3 separate regions of the Homo sapiens genome follow, and all the other regions are linked to region 3. Evidence: fine-mapped expression QTL. A gene starts in region 3. Each other region holds a variant in brackets. All regions are shown on one strand. Distances are from middle to middle. Region 1 has its middle 55 kb from the start of ALDH1A1. Region 2 overlaps LOC101927281 (a long non-coding RNA gene). Region 3 holds the start of ALDH1A1 (aldehyde dehydrogenase 1 family member A1).

What was found.
Region 1: its variant is fine-mapped to the expression of ALDH1A1 in whole blood (INTERVAL, PIP 0.92).
Region 2: its variant is fine-mapped to the expression of ALDH1A1 in whole blood (INTERVAL, PIP 0.91).

What each region holds. Positions count from the first base shown.
Region 1 is chr9:73,003,817-73,012,006 of GRCh38, reverse strand. No RefSeq gene overlaps it. Among named protein-coding and RNA genes, the nearest start is that of ALDH1A1, 55 kb to the right of the region's middle. The variant T/G (reference allele first, on the strand shown) is at 3,909.
Region 2 is chr9:73,279,806-73,287,995 of GRCh38, reverse strand. The region is part of intron 1 of LOC101927281 (a long non-coding RNA gene); the gene reads right to left. Among named protein-coding and RNA genes, the nearest start is that of ANXA1, 130 kb to the right of the region's middle. The variant T/C (reference allele first, on the strand shown) is at 4,940.
Region 3 is chr9:72,949,906-72,958,095 of GRCh38, reverse strand. ALDH1A1 (aldehyde dehydrogenase 1 family member A1) reads left to right here and starts at 5,043. Exons shown (of 13, transcript NM_000689.5): 1 at 5,043-5,161. The coding sequence starts at 5,096.

The sequences.
Region 1 (8,190 bases), 54 kb before region 3:
AAAAGAAAAAATATCAACAAGTGGAACTGATATTTGGACAAGAAAGGAAAGAAATATTGGAATTTAAATGGAACATTTCCAGGAACAAGAGCACAAGCATACTTTCTCATCCTCTTCTTGCTCTTCAGTCTGATATGGTGATCCAGATGGGACACCCACTTCCCAGTTAGTTGATTCTAGCCATGGGCTTCCATCCTCTGAATAAGGGCATGGGTTTCTAGTCTCTGCATATGGAGGGGATCCTCTCATTTCAATGTGTGGACCTTCATAGGATGGAGTAGGATACGTTTTATCTCCTTCACTGTGTCTGATTTGGGGACCACTGAGTTGAGGTGTAAGTGTTTGCATTGCAAAAGAAAGGCAAAATAGCCTGAAGATAATTTCATCCTCATGAGAGACTTTTTGGGCTCCCTACAAATTCTTCCTGAAATAGCTGATGCTGACTCACTTGCTCTGGGAACACATTTATTGTGTCCAAATTTTTCATGGCACGTGATTATGAGATCTTAGATTAGTAATGTTGCTTGGCAACACAACAGCATCCCTAGACTTTTTCAATTTGACTTACCTAAATTCAAGTTTCAAACTTGCAGAAAGAGCACAGATGGCTTTAAGATTTAGCATTTTATATTTATAAGAAAGAATATATGTGTGTATATATATATTTGATTCAAATTTATGCTCCAGCATAAGAAATTCCAAGTTTTTCTGCTAAGCAATTCCATTTATATCTATGTTGAATGTCCTTGCCATTTCCTCCAGTCTACATCCCAGCTGTTCTCATCACTACCCACATTCAAAAACTCTCTCTTCATATGCATTTTTAGTTATAATTTCTTCTCCAGAAAGGAATGTGCAATAATCCGAGTAATGTCTTCATATTCACACCATAACATGATAAAAGAAGGAAGGAATAAAGGAAAGAAGGAAGGGAGGGAGGAGAAAGACAAGAAGGAAGGGAGGGAAACAGACAGGAAGGGAGAGAGAAAGAGGAAGTTTGCATCCAAACTTTTATTCAAGAAATTGATTTTTTTAATGTGGCCAATACTTCTCTTAAAATAATTTATATAGAGAGTAAATATGTCTAAGATTCAAACACAATATAATAAGGGTAGAGTGGACATTTCTTCACAATTTGGCATAACAATAACTGCAAACAATTTTCAACAAAAGTATTTAGCACAGTATTATTTATTAATGCAAGTTATTGAAAACATTTAAAACATTTCAAATGTGTCAGTGTATGTATAACAAGGGCAGTAGAAGCAAAATTTATAAATACTGTGATCATGAATAATTTTATTTTATTCTTTTTTATAAATTTTCCACAATAAATACACACAACTTCTGTAATATTAAAAATAAGCCAGTTTAAGATTCTTTTATAAATGTTGTGCAGTAGAGTAAATCGATGATTAGTTTCATTCTGTGCTGATTATTAAGCTACTCCGTGTCATGTCCTATCTTACCCTTCTGGCTTAGTTTTCTGATACTGAGGTTGCAACTCTGCAAATAATCTTACCCCCTCCTAGCTGCTTTCCTGTTAAAGCCTACCAATGAAGGAGCTAACGGAAATTTAAAGGCAGAAATAAGAGAAGGAACATGGTCTTCCTATTTGCTTGTTGTTTCTGTAGGTTTTGTCCCAGCAGTGCCCCGGCTTCCTTCAGCACTCCCAGAGCAAGCCTTCCCATACCCCATTGGTAGTACTAGCATGAAGCAGGCAAGTACCCTTTCTTCAGAGATCTGATTCCCAGCTACCATTTCCATTTATTGAGTCACATCTAAAACTGCCAAATTTGAGTGGAGACCAGAGCAAGCGAAGGCTCTGCAGCAAGTCCAGACTGTAGTGTGAGCTACACTTCCCCTTGAAGATCAGCAGCTGTTCCTAAGATCTTAAGTGTCTGTGGTATACAGAGGCACCACATGGAGTCTCTGGCAAGCCCTGATAGGAGGATTACAATGCAGACCTCTAGGGGGGTTTGGGAGCAAATCTATGTCTTCAACATATTTGCTTCTTTTTTTGAGAAACAGTTACTGGAATGCTTTTGATCTTTGTAGAGCCTGAAAGCTTGACCAAGGAACATCAAAATAACTGTGCAATCTGAACTGCCCCTCATAAACTGGGTGTTATATGGTCCACCAAGCCATAAGTTTAGCAAGCAATTAATCATCAAGTGGACATGCTTTTAAGAGATGTACATGAGAAGGTGGTTCAATGCCTCAATTTGTCCTTCACGTCCTTTGAGACCTACTCCATCTTCATTGTCTTCTCTCACTCAATCCAAGGGAATTCCTTATAACTGAGAAAGAAAACCTTGAACTTAGTTTACAGATGGTTAGATCCCAAGGGAGGAATGTACACATAGACACCAAAAACTCCATTAAACTGGAAGTTAAAACTGTAGCCTGGACACCTGGGGCTCATGCCATTGAGCCAACACTTGAAGGAGGTTGTTGTATGGAGAAGAGCAATTGATGTTCATTACCAAAGGGAACCTGAGCAGCTTCCAAACAGTGAGGGAGGCAGAGAGCACAATGACTGGATTCTCTGAGCACCTATTAACACTTTATGTCCAGGCCAGGCACAGTGACTCACACCTGTAATCCCAGCACTTTGGGAGGCCAAGGTGAGTGTATCACTTGAGCTCAGGAGTTCAAGACCAGTCTTAACAACATGGCGAAACCCTGCTTCTACCAAAAACAAAACAACAACAACAACAAAAACACAAAACTTAGCTGGGCATAGTGGCATGCACCTGTAGTCCCAACTACTCGAGGCTGAGGTGAGAGGATTGCTTGAGCCCTGGAGGTCGAGGCTGCAGTGAGCCAAGATCATGCCACTGCACTTAGAATACTAAGCAACTACACAAAGGCCCATTACTGAGGATTCACATCCTTCAGAAACAAAAATTCAGATAAGCCCACTAGTACAGAAATCTAGTTAGCTGAGGACAAGGGGGACATGGAATAGACATGAAAAGACAAAAGTTAGAAACGTTAACCATGCTCTCGTGATTAGTTTCAGAAATGAGGACAAGAGCAGTGATATAAGCTTTCTTCCTTTCTTGTTACTTATAGGTATATTCATAGTAATGCATATTAGCTAATTTATATTTATTTTCTTTCTCTTTTTCTCTCCTTATTTTACATAGAGCTTATTGGATCATGGTGTTTTACACTTCAGACTTTATATTACCAATTTCCAGGTGGGACTGTGACAGAATTTGAGGAGCAATCAACATCAGTCAGAAATTGATACCGTGACTCTTTCTGGAAATTGTTACTATGGTTGGGACTTCATGGCTTTCTCTTTTAGAGAGAGGAGAGAGCAAAGGATGGATAGTTCCTTCATCTTTCTAGACAATAGCATAGCTTTTGCTTTATGGAAATTCAAAAATTCATAGAAAGGTGTATAGATGTAGAATGGTCAAAGGGGTAGACTATGCCAGTTTATTAAACTAGCTTTTCTCAGTTCCAAACTCTTCATTCTATGCTCAGCGGAGACTCTGCTATCTACTTTTCTCCCTTGCCAGATTGTGTCTTTCTAGGTTCTGTTAGTAGAATGCACTGGCGGGAGAACGGAAGGCAGAAGGGAAGAAAGCAGACTCCACCCTACTTGCTTACTGTTCCTTCAGCATTTCCCTACTCAGATCCTTTTCCCTAGCAGCAGCAAAAACATCTTAAAAGACAACAGAGTAAGACAAGCAGATTCTTCCCCTGAGCTGTGTGGATCTCAGCTCTTGGGACCCCCTCCCAGCATCTGGGCTCTGATAACCCATCCCAACACCTTCTTGTTTCCCTCAGCCTACTGGCAAAGCTACTTCCTGCAGTTAATTTCTCTGTTCCCTTCATGTTCCTTTTTTACTACTTTAGCTATTCATCATACTAACTTCTTTCTGTTATAATTA[T/G]TGTGGTTTCTGATTTCCTGACTGATATGAGTACTTATTACAAGGGCCAGATACTGTATTTTACATATATTGTTTTACTTAATCTTCACAAACCCTGTGAGGTCTTGTGTGTGTGTGTGTGTATTCCAGTATATTGGATATATAATATTCAATCATATATATATATATATAAAATTCAGTGTATTGAGGCTGATAAAATTGAATTTAAACTTTTTTCTTTTAACATACCCATCTTCATAAAGGAATGTTAAAACTTGGATTTGAACACACATTAGATTGACCCAAAAGCCTACCAACTAAATAAACCCAAAAGCAACCAAATAAACAAATGTGGTATAGCCATACAAGGAAATATAATTCAGCAACAAAAAAGTGAAGAATTTATACATGCTAAAAAATGGACGAATCTTGAAATTATCATGTGGAAGAAACCAAACACAAAAAGTAACATGTTGTATGATTTCCTTTATATATGAAATGTTCCGAATAGGCAAGTATACAGACACAGAAAATTGATTAGTGTTTGTCAGGGGCTTAAAGTGATTAACTCCTTAGTTTTCACTCCAGGAAAATGGTTATTTTACATTTGTTAACCAGCTTCAAATCAATTCAGAGAATGGTCCTGGAGTTTTGTGAGTAAACCACTATTTTACGTATAGTGCTTGTATTTTCCTCAAAATGCTGCCACACAGAGAGCACTGTAATTTTCCATGCTATTGCTATGTTGATCTCAGACCTTGAAAAGTAGCTTTGATCCAGGACTGAAAAGAAGAGAAAGTGGTGCATTTCACGCAAAAGGAATTATGGATGGCTAACAACATTAATAAGATGCTCAACTTCACTAACAGAATGTAAACAAATGAATGTAACAATAGAATATCACCACACACACACTCAGACAGGCAAACATGAGCATGGTAACAAGAGAGGAAGGAAACTCTCATCTATCACTGGTGGAAGTACAAACAGATATAGCCTTTTAGAAAAACATTCTGGTGCTATGTGTTAAAATTAATAATCCACATAGCCTCGTATTCAGTAACCCCACTCTTAGTTTTCTATACCATAAAAATAAAAGTTTCAATGCATAAGGATATAGTGACAAAGAGATATTTGACAATTTTGGAAACAAATTAAAGGTCTACACAATGAGGCATAATTTAATATACTGGGGTAATTTCATACATTATTACCTAGTCATTAAAAAGAATGACCCAGATCTATATATATTTCCCTGGAAATATGTTCTTGATAAACACCAAAGGAAAAAAGCAAGTACGGAGAAATAAATACAATATTCTATTTATGTAAAACAAAGTGGCAAAATGTGTTTCATATGTACCACGCATATTTGTATGTATGTGTATATGAATCTAAAATAATGGAGAAAGTTACAGAAACACATATACCAGATAGTTAACTTTTGGTTGCATAATCGGTGAGTGGGGGACCAGGTGGGGAGGGTAGGATGGAGTACAGGGAGAAGATATGTCAGTTCACAAAAAACAACTGTATTTATTAAATATGTGTCCCAGTATGTAAGATATTTTTCCATTTATGCTGTTTTATACATAAGTGTGATATTACATAAAAATACATAAATGAATTTAACCAAAATACTACAAATCAGTATATGTAAGAGTAGCAGGATTTCGAAGGACTTTTTTCATCCTTCCCTATAATTTGGTGTATTCTTTGAAGTTTTACAAAGATTATGCATTGTTTATATAATCATACAATCAATGGAGTGTGGGCCTCCCCCTATGACTTAGTACCCCTGCATTTTTTAGCTCTCAGACTTGTTCGCATTGAGACTCCAACAATTTGTTAATTACAACTTAGATTTTCCTAGCCTGGAATTGATTCCCATGCAGGTTTCTGGTACAGTAAGTTGTAATTCTCTATATCTGCCTGTCTCTAAAATTTTGGAGTAGCAGTTTTTCCTATGACCTCACCTCTCTAATGGATTTGGAAGAGTTGATTTTTAAGTTTGTCCAGCTTGTTACTTGTTGTTACAATAAAGTAGTAACAACATGCTACTGCTATGTTGATCTCCGACCTTGAAAAGAAAAGTAGCTTTGATCCTGGACTGAAAAGAAGAGGAGGTGGTGCATTTCACAGAAGAGGAATTATGGATGGCTAACAACATTAATAAGATGCTCAACTTCACTAACAGAATGTAAACAAATGAATGTAACAATAGAATATTACCACACACACACTCAGACAGGCAAACATGAGCATGGTAAGCTCCTTGCATGCTGAACCAGAAACCAGAAGTCTGAGCAGGTAGATTTTCCAATGGGTTTATTATTGGCAATGAATATTTAATTGATCACATTATATTTTCAGCTCTATGAAAATTAGAAAATAAGAGAAGATACTTACTATATGAATATACTATAATAAACTGAAGGTTATAAGGCACTTTCTCTAAATCCCATAATAAACATTTGTCTTTTTGTATTATTATTTTATTTTATTCTATTTTTGAGATGGAATCTTGCTCTGTCACCCAGGCTGGAGTGGAGTGGTGCCATCTCTGCTCACTCCAACCTCCGCCTCCCAGGTTCAAACGATTCTCCTGCCTCAGCCTCCTGAGTAGCTGGGACTACAGGTGCACGCCACCACTCCTGGCTAATTTTTGTAATTTTAGTAGAGACGGGTTTCACCATATTTGGTCAGGCTGGTCTCGAACTCCTGACCTCAGGTGATCCACCCACCTTGGCCTCCTAAAGTGCTGGGATTACAGGCATAAGCCACCGCACCCAGCTGGAATTTTATCTTTATGTGGTATTTAGAACATATATTTAGAATACATAAAGCAGTAAGAAGAACGTTTATTTTTCCTTTTGAAACACACAATTTGCTAGATCCTTTAGACTTTTAACAAAAGTGATTTAATTTGACTTGCAATAAGTTTCAGAATGCAATTTATATACATTATTTTGCTTATAACAGAATATCTAAAATTGGGTAATTTATAAAGAAAGGGAATTTCTTTCTTATAGAAAAAAAAAAGCTTTCCTATTCTTAAATTATTGAATAGTTAACAATTTGCTCAGGGATTGCATCTGGTGAGACCATTCTTTTTAGTGGGGACACTGCAGCACCCTGAGGTAGTTCAGAACATCATGTGGTGAGGGGGCTAAGCATGCCAACATGCTAGCACAGGTCTCTCTTCCTGTTCTTATAAAGCCAACAGTTACCCTCCGAGGACAAACCATTAATCCATTAACTCATTAATGCATTAATCCATGAGTGGATTAATGCACTCATGATCCAATCACCTCTTAAAGGTCCCACCTTTCAATACTGCCACATTGGGGATTATGTTTCAACATGAGTTTTGGAGGGAACATTCAAAATAGGGCAGAGACTTAATAGAAACAATGTACAACCGGCCGGGCGCGGTGGCTCACGCCTGTAATCCCAGCACTTTGGGAGGCCGAGGCAGGCGGATCACGAGGTCAGGAGATCGAGACCATCCTGGCTAACACGGTGAAACCCCGTCTCTACAAAAAATACAAAAAATTAGCCAGGCGTGGTGGCGGGCGCCTGTAGTCCCAGCTACTCGGGAGGCTGAAGCAGGAGAATGGTGTGAACCCGGGAGGCGGAGCTTGCAGTGAGCCAAGATGGCACCACTGCACTCCAGCCTGGGCGACAGAACCAGACTCTGTCTCAAAAAAAAAAAAAAAGAAAGAAACAATGAACAAGCTTCAAAAACAGATAGATAATGTAAGCAGAAAGATGCAAATTCTAAGAAAGCATCAAAAAGATATGCCTTAGATCAAGAACAATGAAACAAATGAATTCCTTTGATGGGCTTATTAGTAGATTGGACACAGCTGAAGAAAGAATCACTGAGCTTCTGGATATAACAATAGAAACTTCCAAACTGAAAAGCAAACAGAAGAAAGATTGAAAAACACAGAACAGAATATCGAAGAACTGTGGGACAGTTCAGAAGGTATAACATATACATAATGGAAAAAAACTGAAAGAAGAAAAAATATTTGAAACAATAATGACTGAAAATTTCCCCAAATTAATCTCAGACACCAAACCAAACCAAAGATCTAGGAAACTCGGGGAATAACGAGCAGAATAAATTCCCAAAACCCTACACCTAGATATACCATATTCAAACAACAAAATCAAAGGCAAGGGAAAAATCTTGAAAGAAGCCAGATGGAAAGAACACCTTACCTATAGAGGAACAAAGAGAATTACATTTGACTAAGTCAACTCTTTAAGCACTGGAAAGGGGCTCAGAGCTATT
Region 2 (8,190 bases), 330 kb before region 3:
TATTATTATACTTTCTTTTTCTAAATATTGTTAGGTTTTTACCTTATATTCCTAGACACCTCCCAATTTCAGTTGCTAGATTCTTGACTTTTGCACCAGGTATTTATTTGTTTGTTTATTTGTTTGCTTATTTTATTTGTTTATAGACAGGGTCTCATTCTGTCACCCAGGCTGGAGTGCAGTGGCATCCTTATGACTCACTGTAGCCTCAACCTCCTGGGCTCAAGTGATCCTCCCACATCAGCCTCACTAGTAGCTGAGACTACAGGTGCACACCACCACACCTGGCTGTGCACCAGATTTTAAAATATTGAAACACCCATGAGATCTCTTTTTCTGCCTTCTTCTCCACCTACAACTTTCTCCTAAGTTGTCTAATTCAGTCTCATGGTTTCAAATACTACACTTTGAGGACTTTGAAAATTTTATCTCTAATATCTCTCTTTGCTCCAGATTCATACCCATCTCCATATATCACCATATTCATTTTGCATTAATATCATTGAAAACACACTAAGCCAAACAGTATTTACTCTTCTCACCCACCTTGTGTACATTTATATACCACTGCTCTCAAGTCTTCTTCACTGCCATTGAGTCACCTCCCAACCAGTTACTCAACCAGTTATTCAAACTTAGAATCATCCTTGATTATTTTCTTCACACTCTACTTTTCTCCCACCCACCAATAATTCTGTCTCTTTTGTCTTTAAAACATAACGCTTCTCTGACTATATCTCATTATTTCAACCATAAACTCTTGCCCAAAATATAAAAACAAGTTTTCACCTGGTCATTCTCATTATGTTCAACACTCTGTCCATTCCAATGACATCCAGAGTTATTTTTTCCAAGTGCAATTTGGATCTTTTCATTCACCAGGACAAAGACAAGTCTATCCTTCCTATTGCAATTAAATTAAAATTCAAACTCCTCTCACACCTACCTTGCTTACTCTATTTCCCTACACATACCATCTGAGTTACCATGTCCTATCCAAAATGGCAATATTTCTTTCAACTTAGAAGCCAAACTCTTTCCCATATGTCATTATTTTCTCTTCATGTACAATTCTCTATAATTTCCTTTCATAGCTACGTATTTTTCATCATTCAGGTCTCAATTCAAATGTTACCACTTAGAGAGAGAGGCCCTCCCTGACCATCAACTTCTCCCTGTTCACTATCACATTTTCATATTTTGTTTTCTTCATTTAACTTATTAATGTGTTGCTTATCACATGCTTATTTGTTTACCTGTTTATTGCCTTGTTTTTTGTTGTTGTTGTTTTTGTTTTTCGAGACAGAGTCTTGCTCTGTCGCCCAGGCTGGAGTGCAGTGGTACGATCTCAGCTCACTGCAACCTCTGCCTCCTGGGTTCAAGCGATTCTCCTGCCTCAACTTCCCCAGTAGCTGGGACTACAGGCGTTCGCCACCACGCCCAGCTAATTTTTGTATTTTTAGTAGAGACGGGGTTTCACCATATTGGCCAGGATGGTCTTGAACTCCTGACCTCAGGTGATACACCCATCTCGGCCTTGCGAAGTGCTGGGATTACAGGCATGAGCCACCGCACCCAGCCCATTTTTGTATCTTCTATACCTAAAAGAATGTGTGTGATATAGGCAGTACTTTAGAAACTGTTTTTGATATCAACATTTTGTTAACTTTCTGTGAATAATGGTTTCAATTGAAATGTAAGAAAGCTATACTCAAAATAACAACTCTAACAAGAGTGACAACAACAACAACAAAATCCCCTCAATATTCAGACAAGAGAACATGTGGGGAAAGGTTTGAGCTTTTAAGTTAGAATTTTCCTCAATTGAAAACAAATGTAAAAGTAGAAAATGAAAAAACAAATAATATCTAGAAGGCTTATGTATTTTATAGGCATAGGGATCCATGGACAAAGAATTCAGTGTCTCTAATCTTCATCTCTTACCTTCCAGGCATTTAACAAACAGTGTTGTTGTATATATTTTTTGTCAGGTACTGTTCTAGTTGATGAAGTTAAACCGTAGATATAACAGACACAAACCCCTGTCTTTGTGGAACTTCCACTCTTCTTTTTTATTTTTATTTATTTATTTTTTTCAAGATGGGGAGTCTCACTCTGTTGCCCAGGCAGGTTGAAGTGCAGTGTCGCGGTCTCGGCTGCACTCCGTCTCCCAGGATCAAGCAATTCTCCTACCTCAACCTCCTGAGTATTTGGGACTGCAGGCACACACCCCCAGGCCCAGCTAATTTTTTTGTATTTTTTTGTTTGTTTGTTTTTGAGATGGAGTCTCGTTCTGTCACCCAGGCTGGAGTGCAATGGCGTGATCTTGGCTCACTGCAACCTTCACCTCTCGGGTTCAAGTGATGCTCCTGCCTCAGCCTCCTGAGTAGCTGGGACTATATGCGCTCACTACCAGGCCCAGCTAATTCTTGTATTTTTAGTACAGATGGGATTTCACCATGTTGGCCAGGATGGTCTCAATCCCCTGACCTCGTGATCCACCCGCCTAGGCCTCCCAAAGTTCACACTACTTTTGAATATTGTCTGTGGCTGACCAGAATTTAACTTCCTTGACATGAGAAACCTCATCTATTGTGTACACAGCTACATCTCCAGCAACTGGCACAAAATAAGTGCTCAATAAAATTTACTAAAGGTTAAATACACGTTGTTCCAACATGACAATAAAAGAAAGCATATAGACTGCCTAACACAGGGCTTGGTATATATTGTAAATTGACTACACATTGTGATTAAGCTGAATAATAGTGAAACACTCTGTACCGTGTCTTACCTCCTCATCAACTGAATGCAAAATACAACTGAATTTTTTGAGATACGCTATTTCTTTTGCCCTAAAATTATGTCAGTGTCATTAAAATACATTTCTACAACATAAATATGTGAAAATGCTGTTAAAAGATTTTCACAGCTTGCTCTCTAGCAGTATTACTACTGCCTACTTCTACCCACACCTGCCCAAATATCACAGCAGGCCACTTTTAATTAATGCCCAGGGTTAAATGTCAGGTGCAACATCTCACTAATCTGTTATTTAGAGCAGTTGAGACCATGGAACAAATGAACCTCTGCCTTTAGCAGCTCATAAGAAATGCATCCTATACCTCCCCAGAATGGGATGGCTTGGTTCTTTGCCCCCATAAACTGAACCTACTGAGTGACAAATCAGAACTGATGACTTCAAAGTTGGCTAAGTCACTGGCTTTATAGCAGCAAGCACCACAGTGCACATAAAAGAAAGAACTGTTCCCAGACATTACCTACAGTAAAATCCTCTCTGAGTTCTTTTCCGGAAAGAAAGAAAGAAGCAACAAAAAGGATTAACCTAGTTGCATAAAGAGCAGTAAAGGACTCTGGCAATGCAGTTCGCGCTCGTAGGTTCGCATCACCAGTGAACAGAAGGCTTGCTTTACCGCTCCCTCAGGAGCACGTCTCTCATTGAGTCCACATGCTGTGAGTCCAAGGCACTGTTTCTCTCGCTATATTTGGCTGACTGGTTATTTTACTTTCTTTTTGCTCTACTCATCTTATTTTGTATCCCCCTGTGAGGTGAAAACAATCCAGATAGAACTAGACTATCATACAGGACTCGTTACTTAATTTTCTGTTTCTGAATAATTCATAAAGAAAATCTTATCAACTTGCCTTTCCTGTGAGGTTGCCACACATCCAGTTTCCCTCCACACAGTGTCTTCCTTCTAAAAACAAGATAGCTCTGGGTTCTGATACTCCTCTTGAGGGAGGGATGAATGCCAGGCTTGAGGGCTTATTAACAGAAGACTCTACTTTATCCAGGCTGTTCTGCTCAGAGGCTTGCAAACATCCCACACTTACTTCTCCCTCTACTCTACTGCATACCATAACCGGGCTACCCTCCCCTGTCCCATCTGTCAAGTCCTACCAACTCCTTGAGCCTGCCTAGGCACTGTGGCCCACCAGATGCTCTCATTCTTATAGCTCTTACTGTGATTTGTCTAGCTCACTTATTTGTCTTAGTTTCATATTACCACACTGTATTTCTTACCTGCTTATTAGTTTTAAACTCTGCCTTAAGTATCCAAATAGGTATGTCCTCCATCATTATAATAACCTAGTGTATTAGTTAGGGTTCTCTAGAGAAATAGAACCAATGGGATCGATCTCTCTCTCTATCATCTCTCTCTCTCTCTATCTGTTCTTATCTATCTATCTATCTATCTATCTATCTATCTATCTGTCTATCTACCTATCTAGAGGAACAGAGAGAAACACTGAGAGAAAGAGTAACTTTTAAAAATTGGCTCACATGACTTTGAAGACTTGGTAAATTCAAAACTTACAAAGTAGACTGGCAGGCTACAGACCACGGGAAACTCACTGTTTGAGTTCAGAGGCAGTCTCCTGGCATAAGTCTTTCTTGATGAGTGGAGGATGGTCTTTGTTCTATTAAGTCCTTCACCTGATGGAAGGAGGTGCAGCCACATTATGGAAGGTAATCTGCTTTACTCAAAGCCCATCAACTTAAATGTTAATCCCATCCAAGAAAACACCTTCATAGAAACATCTACAAGCATGTTTGACCAAACATCTGGGCACCATACAAAGCCAACTGGACCCATTAAATTAACCATCATTCATAGCAAATCTATTGTGTATAATAAGTTCTCAATGTATTGAATATATATACATATGAAGAAATGACCATTTGGGATTAATAAGCCAAATTCCTACAGGGTTGGTTACCAACCCATTTTTCTAGTCTCATAATCCACCATACTCTTCCTCACTTTCTCCTCCCCAATCACTGTGTATGCCTTGCTTCTTCCTGTGATGAGACTTTTGCATGGACTGTACCCATTGTACAGCTGCTCTTTCCTTCACTTTTTACCTAACTTATATTCACTCTTCATTTATTCATTGATTTTGCAAGGAAACATTA[T/C]CAGACTCTCCAGACGAATTTAGTTTCCTGAATCATATGTTCTCATAGTTACAGACTACAATATACCTCTCTTTCATGACTTTTAAGAAAGTAGTTTCATATTATTTGTTACACATTACTTGATTAATATCTGTCTTTTACACTTGACATTAAATTTTATGAAAACAGAGAGTATGTCCATTTTTGCCCACGTTTTGTCCAGATTCTAACAGTTTCTGGTGCATAGGAAGTAATCAATACATTTTTGTTAACTTCTGGCTAAATGAATTATTAGCCAGTGAGATTAATTTTGCTTCTCTTATAGAATGCTTCTAAAAAGGCAATTAGAAGCTACACAGTGTTAAAACAACCAGAACAAAACATGAGCAAAGTCAAGCTATAATTAATTCTCTATGCAAAAGGTTAAACAATCAGTATGTTATCTGCCTGAACTGCCTGGCTACATTGCTACAAGTACAGTTTCAGAATCCTAACACCTTCCAATATCAGATATAGACAACGCTTCAGTATCACCTTCCATTAATTAACAAACATGGAGATTATGCTATTTTGAGAGAGAGGGAGATTTCTTAAATTCAATGTTATTGACCACAAACCTAGAGTCTTCCAGAGATCTGTTGCTCACTGATATATAACTGATTAGTAATGTATGAGTAAATATTTTAGACTGAAAATAAGTATCTCTTTTAAGGTTAGAAAATCTGATTATAATCCTACTCAATTTTAAAATTCTCTTTGAGTACTTGAAATTGTAGAAATTAGCCCTAGAAACGTTTGAGTTACATAAAAATTTTACATCAGTTTCAACCTGTCAGTATCTTTTTTTAATTTTTTTTTTTTGCCCCTTATCAGGATTGTTGACTTTCTCTAAATTTTGCCTCCTTAAGAGTTGAGAATGCTTAGATTTGCCCACTCCAAACATACTAGTTGTTATAATTTCACATAAAAGGTAAAGTAGAATAATTAAAATATTTCAGTGTTTCACTCTAATATTTGTATAATCCCTCCTGTCTCAATGTTTTGTTCTTTTACCCAGGTTTTACTTCAGGTATCTGTTTTACTGCTATAGTTAATCTGATCACTTATTTTTGTATGTCTTTATTTCTTCATTTGTAAAGTGAAAATGATAAAAATGTCATAACCCACAAGACTATTTTGAAAATCAAGTAAAACACTGTACCTATACATCTCTTAACTGAAAAGTACATGGTAAATCACAGTGTGATTATTATATATTAAAATATTTAAATAATCCATTTGATATATGATTGTCCAACCTAATAACTATCAATAAGCCTAAATATAAACAAAATTTAAAATTGTTATGCCTAAAGTATCAGGCTAATTATCATCACATAACCCTTCTCCTTTAAATTCTTCTTCATCTTAAATATGGACTGTTTTACCTCAATGAATATTTCTTAAAAACAAATTAATGTATAGCTGATCAATAATAGAAAATTAAGTCAGAATAACAACAGGTTGACCTAATCCATATGCAACATTCCCAAGCATGTTAATATTTTGCCCCAATTAATAACTTCAGCTGAAAACAAACTATACTAACACACCAAAAAATAGGGAGCCAGGCTGAAGGAACACAGTACAAAGTAGACACCCTGCCATCAGTCAGTTTAGCCAAATAAACAGACAGTGAAGACTTTAAGTGGGTTTTCACCATTGCATAGATATTGCTAAGCAGAAAATTTCTTCATGCACTTCTGAAATCTAATGCCCTTGTGTCTCATCTAAGAGTTAGTCAATTTTTTAACTTATATTTTATTCTATTTAAACAACCCATTCAACAAACCCTACTAGTCATTCTGCAAACTTAGTGCTAATAGCCATGCAGTTGAGTACCAAAAGCCTAGTCTTTAGAAGTAGGTAGACTTGAGTGCAAACTTTGGTTCCACCCACTCACCAGCTGACCAATCTTGGGTGAATCTCTAACTTTTAGATGCCGCCGCCATTTGTTCACCTATGAAATTGAGTTAATAACATTATCTTCCCTTGGTTCACTGTGAGAATTAAATGACATGAGTTTTGTAAAACACGATGGAACCTAAGTACTGCAGTTTAAATTATTGTTGAGACAGAGTCAATATTAACAGCGTGTGTAGTTACTTTGCTGTTAGTAAGTTGATACCCAGTTTCTAGTCTGACTTTTTCTATGTAACATAAAGTATTGGTACATTTTAGGTCATGAAAATAAATGTCCCACCTCTGTGTGAACAAAATTCAATGGATTGATTTTCATTCTATTTTGCCCAGTGTTAAATAAAATTTTGACCTCAATTATTTGCATATCATCTGCATATTCTAATCGAAAGTATTGCATGATCTGGATTGCCATCCTAGATAATTATCTCAGCTCTTTGCTTCACATTTGTGTTTAGCCTTAACATCTCAACCTTCCTTGCCACATTTATGTCGTTAATTGTGATTATGTTCAACTATGTATTACTGATATTAAAAGCACCAAACAGCAGATATCATTATCTTCAAGGAGATCCCAAAGCTTCTCCCAACCTGATGCTTAAATCTAAACCACTCAGCATGTTTGGCAAAATACTCACAACACAGCTATCTGTTTTTGGAATAAGTGCCCCTCTCCATTCTACTTAATTGAAAACAACTCTAAATTGCCCTCCTGAGCATAAAGAACCAGGGATTAAGACATAGTAGCGGAAAAGTATCAGGGTTTTAAAGACTTATATAAACAACACAGTTGTTTGAGCGGGTGACAAATAAATTCAAGCTCCCCAGGACACACTTGTTTAGGATTTTCCCAATTAGGCATTTTATTTGATCTTCGGGTCTGGGTGAGCCACAATTCTCTAGAATTGAAGAGGAGATTAATGGACCAGAGACAATGGCTAATTCATCTCCAGGGCTTTGTTCATTGCTTGTCTTTGCTAATTTAATACTGTTATTTCCAAACTTAAATAAATCAAAATGAGAATTGGGCTAGGGCAGTGCATCTCAACAAGCTATGCAATCACAGGATTATCCTCCAACACCCTTACTTTTACACTAGGTATCTTGACTTGAAAATAATGCTCCCCTTTTGGAGGTGTAAACAGTGGAGAAATAACATTTTGCATATTATCTCGATTAAGTCTGCTCATTGGTGGCAGGGAGTGTGGAGAATAACTTAGCATATTTACAAAGAGACTGAAGACAGAAATTTTAAAAGGATTTCAGTTTAGGGACCTGAGTGCTCATAATAGCTTAGAGGAGAATGAATACAA
Region 3 (8,190 bases):
TCTCTCATGAATGACTTGGTGCTCTCCCCACGGTAATAAATTTACAGGAGAGCTGGTTATAAGAAGAGCCTGACACATTTCCCCCTCTCTCTTGCTCCCTCTCTCTCCATGTGACATATATGCTCCCCCTTTGCCTTCTGCCATGAGTAAAAGCTTCCGGAGGCTTCACCAGAAGCTGAGCAGATGCTGGTGCCATGCTTGTACAGCCTACAGAAACATGAGCCAAATAAACCTCTTTCTCATCTTTACTCTCTCTATATATACACATACATATATATACATAAATATATATGTATATAAAATATATAAAACACCTGATGAGTTTTTCATTGTAAGGTACAGATAGAAAGCTTACCTTTATTTAAATTAGAATATTTAGATAGTAACAATAAACCTGAATGACACAAAGAATGACGGGTGCATGATCAATGACAACATATACATTTTGACACCTATGAACTTGAACTTTTATTGATTAGTGCATTAGTTTCCAATGGCTGCTGTAACAGTTATAAACTTGGCGGTTTAAAACAACACTTTTAGAAGCCAGAGATCTGAAATCAGTTTCACTGGCCAATATCAAAGGAGTGGACAGGTCAGGCTCTCTCCAGAGATTCTAGGAAAGAATCCATTGTCTTATGTTTTCCAGTTTATAGAGCTTTATTCTTTAATTATTTGTCTTCTGGTCCCCTTCAATAGCTTCAAAATATTGATTCATTGCCAGGGCAGGGGTGGTAAGAAAAGTTGTTTATATGAAAATTAAACTGAATATATTACAAACAATATCATCAAATTTCTAAACACATTGTTGGATAATCTGCATGAGAATTATAAAAAAAAAAAAAAGAAAAAATTGTGGAAATCTCAAAGTAGTCTACATTTTGATTGACTCATTGATGTCTTTCATGTCTTTCTTTCTACACATTAAGGAAGCAAACTGGAAACTAGACAAAACACTATGAGTACTATTTATGCAAGATTATTTCAAATTCCAAGCAGCAAATCCAGTTCCAAGAAATGGCCTCAACCCATAAGGTTTAGCAAAAACCTATTTAAACTCAAATAATTATCTTACAGAGGCTTTAATGTACTGTTTCTTTTAGTGACCTTACTAATCAGTTAGTGTCCTGGTTAGACCAGATTAGAGGGGCATCTATCCTATCTCAGTAACACAAGCCAAAGAGAAGAACAATGAAAAGATATGTAAAGAGCAGGAGAAATCAGAGGTGAGGAAATTTTTCCAATTGAAGAAGAATGGCATGTGAACAGAAATTAGTCAACAAATACATATGTTCATATACTTGAATTCTGCCTTCCACTTCCATTTTTAACATCAACTTGTCAACTAAGTACAGACTCTCTCACTACATACAAGATCCACTTTTCCCAAATTATTAAAACTCAAATAAGCATAAGAGCAATGTGGTATCTGATAAAAATGTAGTAATCAAAAGCATAGGGATAGATTTCTTGCTAGGTTTACCAACAGGCAGACATGCTAAGGCAACAGAGAATAGTTAGGGGAGTGGTCATGTAACTGGAGTAGGAGAGGTTCATCTTCAATAAATGGTTCCAGCATCTTGAAATCAGGAAATATGAAAAGAAACTGTCTTAGTTCATTCAGGCTGCTATAACAAAAATTAATTTCTCACAGTTCTGGAAGCTTGAAGTCTGAAATTAGGGTGCCAACATAGTTGGGTTCTGGTGAGAGCCCTCTTTTGGGTTACAGATTGCCAATGTCTCATTGCATCCACACATGGCAGAAACAGCGAGAGATCTCTCTGGAGTCCCTTTTATAAAAGCACTGATCCATTCATGAGGGTCCTACCCTCATAACCTCATTACCTCCTAATATGATTTGGCTCTGTGTTCCCACCCAAATCTCACCTTGAATTGTAGTTCCCATAATCCCCACATGTCATGGGAGGGATCCGGTGGGATGTACTTTAATCATGGAGGGGGGTTACCGTCATCCTGTTCTCATGATAATAAGTGAATTCTCATGAGATCTGATGGTTTTATAAGGGGGTTTTCCCCCTTTTGCTGAGCACTTCTCCTTGCTGCCACCATGTGAAGAAGGACGTGTTTGCTTCCCCTTCCACTGTGATTGTAAGTTTCCTAAGGCCTCCCCAGCCATGCTGAACTGTGAGTCAATTAAACCTCTTTCCTTTATAAATTACCCAGTCTCAAGTATGTCTTTATTAGTAGCATGGGAATGGACTAATACACCTCCCAAAGGCTCCATCTCCTAATACCATCACATGGGGGGTTAGGATTTCAACATATCCATTGTGACTGGACAAAAAAAATTCAGTCCATTGCAGAAGCTATTTTTAATTCATCATATGACTTTTTTCAACATTTTTTTAAAAATTTTAAGTCCTGGGTGGCAGATTAGGTTCCTTTTATCTTTTCAGGAACTGAGGATTGGACGGAGTTCTGGAGATGTTTGTTGTAAAATGAAAGAGTAGTTTCAAGAATGGTTGAAGTCATAATCTATATGTTTCTTGGTATAATGAAAGCTTTCACAAATGGCTGGAGAAGTCAAATTCAAGAGATGAATAAACTATCCTCTTATGTTTCTTGCTTCTCTCTCCATATGTGTGTGTGCCTGTGTGTGTGTGTGTGTGTGATTTAGTTTGTTCATAAGGAGGAAAAAGAAGATGAAACATCATTTGTCGATTACTCTCAAGTTAAAGGGACAGCTCCTCCTCTGCTGCATAGTCCTGGCATACCATAAAAACGTACAATCCTGGGTCCAGTTCTAAAATGTGCAACCTTGGTCCCTAGGTTCTCACAAAAGCCATTATTTCCTCTGTAAGGAATAGAAGTAGTCTGATGAAATCTTTTCCTCATATGCAGCAATTCCCAGAAATATGCTATTCTACAAAATAAGCTCTCAGGGCAGGATGATGTTTACCTCAAAAATATAGGTCTCAGGCCCTGTGGTTTCTAGGCAGAAAAGATCTGCTTAAGTGAGGTTAGGGCTAAAGAATTATGGATGCATAAATGATACTTAGTAAATATTTGCTGAAATTAAATGGGCAGGTGTGGTAACCTGTCTCCAAAGCAACTCCTTTTGCCTACATTCAGGAATGCCTGGTATAAAGGGACTGTTCTTACATAATTATCCAATAAAATACAATTGAGAATGATCATATAAGAAGTGAGATGACAAGCCAAGTATGTTATGAAGCCTTGAGCTTTCATCGCCTGGACATCAAATAAACCAGTATTTGAATCCACAAACAACTGTGACTCTGGGAGAAGAAAGCAGCAAAACACAGCTGTTTGGGCATGGCCAGAGCGCCACTCTCAAGTTATGTAACAGCTGTTGTGTAATTGTGCATTTAACTCAAAACACATTTTTGAGAGAGAAAACAATTAGACTTTCCAAAAAGAAAGAAACAGAGAAATGTTGAAAGAACACAGAAGTTTCTATCTGGTCATCAAACATAAGACACGGGGGAGTCAAAGGCATTGGGAATGATATTGCCTTAGAATCTAGGGAGTTGGCCCGTGCACCAAATCTGGCCTGCCTTCTGTCTTTTTAAATAAAGTTCTATAGGAAAACAACTACACCCATTAATTTACCTATCATCTACAGTTTCTTTTAAATAGAGTCAAGTAAATTATATCAGAAACCATCCAGCCCAGAGGCTGAAAATATTTACAGAAAAAGTTTTGCAAATTCTTGTCTTAGATGAATAAAAAGTTATGTTTAAATGCCTGTAAGGGTGACTATTCACTGAGAAAACCAAAGCAGTTGATGCTTGAACCCATGTAGGAGTTCTCTTGTGGAGAATAGGGTAGAAATAGTAAACAGAAATAAGAGTCCAGGTTTGGGAGTCAGACTGGCCTGAAATGAAATTCTGGTCCTGCACTAATAGATCTGTGACCATAAGTAAGCTACTCACCCTCTGTATGTCTCTAAAATGGGGATATGAAATGAGGGTAGAAAGGGAAACAAGTGCTGCACCTGATTTGGGCAAACAATTCAGAAATTTTTAGTTTCCCTATGTAAGTCCCATATTCAGGGGAATTGGCAAGTTTCACTAGAAAAAAAAAAATTGGTTGATTCTCCACAATCAGAGCATCCAGAGTATTTTATCTTGTTCCTATTGTAACGTTTGCTAGAGCTACAATACAATAAAGTATTGTACTTAAAATGGGAGTAACACTGTTTAAAAAATTGTCCTTCAGCTAAATATTAATTTAAGAACTTGAATTGTTTGGAAGCCCTGCTTAAATTTAGTCTTTGTACACTGCCTATGTTGATAAATACAGACAACTTCCAAAACCAGGATTACTTTCATTTTAAATGAGTATTAATAGATGATATTGCCATATTTCTAATTGTGGTGATTGTGTGTGACAGTGTGTTCCGAATTCCCTAAAAGTCCTGCTGGCTTTTCTGTTCACATATAGAAAATAAAGATAATTTAGGGCTTCTGAGATCACAGTAGGTCTACTTACCCAGCACTGAAAATACACAAGACTGATACGATATTTTAAAACTAACTTAGGGTAGGGTGTAGATAAAGGGCCTTTCTTCCCCAAACAGCACCTTGATTTTCTGGGAGATGGACTGATTTCCTGAAAGCCTTGTCCTGAAGACACCTGGCCAGCTTCTACTGAGAACAAGTGCCCTTTTAGACTCTTTTCAATCCTCAAATTCTCTGATTCCAAGTCTGTCAGAGAACAGAAAGTTACATAGTAGCATTAAAAAGCATGAGAAGTCAAAAAAATAATAACTGGCCTTAGTGGCCAGAGCAGCTGCTGCATACACTTATCACAGGTTTCGGCTTTGTAAATTAATTCATCTGCAAATAGTGCACTGTCTCCAGGTACAAATTCGATGCTGGAGCACTGGTTTCTTAAGGATTTAAGTTTAAAGTCAAAGGCTTCCTGCCCTAGGTGTTACAAATAAGTAGTGTCGTTTTCTTTTTTTGCTCTGAGTTTGTTCATCCAATCGTATCCGAGTATGCAAATAAACTTTAGCCCGTGCAGATAAAAAAGGAACAAATAAAGCCAAGTGCTCTATCAGAACCAAATTGCTGAGCCAGTCACCTGTGTTCCAGGAGCCGAATCAGAAATGTCATCCTCAGGCACGCCAGACTTACCTGTCCTACTCACCGATTTGAAGATTCAATATACTAAGGTGAGTAAAACTTCTATTTTCTGCTTTGACTCGGGTTTGCAAAAACTGCATTTATGTAAAGCATTAAAGGTCAATTTAAGTAAACTTGTGTAAAGAGCCCTTTGCAAATATAAAAATAAAAGGCATGCAAAATGCAGGTCTCAGTTTAGTGTCCTGATCAAATATGATCTAAATCATATCAGACAATCTTTCATAAATTTATTTCTTAAAATATTTCCAAGCGAAAGGAATTCTCTTCTGTGTGAAAGGATTCTTATACCAGGATTCAGAGGACTTTACTAAGCACTTCTATTAACTTCACTATAGCCGGCATGTATGATAAGAGAGCAAAATACTCACTAGAGAAGCTTACTGGAAAGAACCAAACGAGTAGGAACAATAGAAAGCAAACAAGGAGAAAGAGAGCATACTGAAATAACATAACTTTCCAATATGTTTAATAAAATGAGTGTTAAAATAGGGGGACTTAAGTCTGATAATTGGATTCGAAAATCTTCAGATGGACTTGCATTATTTTGCATATTTTGGTGGGAGGAAGAAAAGCATTATTTCTTCAGCCAAGTTTGTTGCCATTGGAGCAGATGTGTAATTGTTAACTGATAAATATTTAGAGAAACAAGAGCAGGAGCTAGATCCAGACTTTAAAATCCGCAGCTGGGGGGAACTAGGAAATGGATCCTGCTTGAGTCGTTCTGAGAGTAACTCTGAACTTTGCCTGTTTCACACTGCTTTCCTGTCAGATCCTAGAACTCCAAAACAAACAAATGAATAAAACACAATCTAACCAAAATTACTTGAAGTTATCTTTATGGTGTGATGCAGAAAGTATGGTAAGAAATTAACTCTTGCAAATCAAGAGAGAGCCATTTTGCTGTCTGAATTAGCCAACAGAAAAACAAAGGGCATTATAATTTAATGATAAAGTAAAAGTCCCCACTGTTATATATTTATTTCCTCACTTGTAACCATGGATGGCTTTGAAATCCCAAGGTCTGTTGCATTTTCATTTTCATAAAGCACAACAAATGAGGAAGTTGCTCAGCTGATTGGCTCTTTTCCTCAGGAAAGTAGCAGCAGAGATCAGATTGTGCCTTTAACATGGTTGACCAGCAGCTATGAAGTGTATTTTAAGGTATTGTTATCACGAGGTTTTGTTAAAGAGGAAAGATTTTTTCCATTTAGTTTTACTACAAATGGTAGCATGAAAAATGCAGTAAATCCATACCGTCAAACAATTTACATTTGGCAAAGGTATGTCCAAAAGGTTGCAAGAGTCCAGTCTCCCTCATTTTCTTATTCCAAGTTTGTCATTCACAAGAAATTTCAATTGAAAGTGGGTACATTTAAAAATACATTTCATGAAGCTCAAAATTGTCGACAATGCTCAGATTATTGTATTACTATTATTAATGGGATTTTTTTTTTAATAATACTACCTAGGAAGATATTTTGGTAGTCTGGATGCCCCTGTCTCCCCACTCCTTTGGCTTTGCAGAAGTTTGCAAAGTCTTCCTTGTGTGTGTATTTCAAGGAAGCTCTAATGTAAATAACCTTCCTGCTAAATTAAGCTTCACTTAGTAGTCATTAACTAAGCATGTAAGAAGCGGTACTAGACAAATGAGATGGTCCTAAAAATCTAACATACAAGCACAGACCTAATGAACCCTTAACACAGAGAGATGATTTTGAGATTGAAACCTATTCACTTCGAAGTCACTGTGCAACAACTCCCCTCTAGGGAAAGTGACTGACCTAAGTGTCCAAAAGAAGGCAAGACTCAAAGAGCAGGCGTTTTGCTCTGTGTTTAAGAACTTTTCTGGGTAAAAATACTCCAAACAAGTCAGTGAATTTTGATTTCTCGTGCATCTTCTATATAAATCTGTTCTGCTCAGATAGCATTTTATTGTTTAATTTATTGGTTACAGCGTTTTCACACTTGGGAGGACGCCAGTTATGTATGTAATTAAATCTAAATGGGTGAACTTTTTCAAATGCCTTCGCATTTTTTGTTTACTATGTCCCAGTGAAGAATTGGATTGAATTTGCTCTTGCAAGAGGAGTTAAAAAAAAAAATGATGGTTATTAACTATAAAAAGTTCCCTGGTTACAAACCAAGTAAGCAAGGAGTTTATAGTGTCTGAGGAATTATCTTCTATTACCAGCCCCTAAAGTCTTGTGTTATTTTTCTGTTACTATTCTAATGTCCTTTTTTATTATTATTATAGCTAGAAGTATATTGGTTGTTAGGACAAGTTGGAGAGAACAGACAGGGTTGAGTAAAAAAAAAAATATTACAACTACGATAGAAAAGCTACATACTCTCAAGCTTGGGACTGCTTTTCACCCAAACAAAAGAATTTATTGATGCATATGTTTTTATGACTTATTTTCTAGTACAGTCTGATTATTTCTTTGTTGGGGTAGATTAAAGAGAGATCAGAGTTTAAGAAATGCTTTCTAAAATTATACAAAAGCTTTTGGAATTTAAAACCTCAAAAACATCGCTATAAATTCACTAATATGAACTCATATCCCATCCTTATCCTCATTACTCCTCTTTCCAACTCTAAATGAACCCCACATTTTCCATTTTATTGAGCCTTTAAATGAAGAGATTCTTTGAAAGTTATGTGATCATTGGGCAAGCTACATTACTTCTCTCTGCCTCGGTTTTCTTATGTTTAAAATGGGGATGATAAAGGCACGTATTTTCTAAGGTCGATGAAAGTATTAAACGAACTTAATGCGTACAAAGCCCTTGAAATAATGCCTGGACATGGGAAATGATTTAACGTTAGTGATCCTAGTCCTATTTTTCTGAATCCTTTCCAGTTTTTCCAGAATATTCCCTTTTACCCAACCTTTCCTAGACCTGTTTCCTACAAGTATGCCTCACGTCTTCTCCTAGCTTTTCTGTCACTCTTTTTTGTACAGTCATGTCCCATCTGACAAAGATTGCATCAGAGTGAAGTTCCAAGGGTCTTCCAAGATTTCAGGGATCAAAAATTTTCTCCTACAGGATTCGGTAA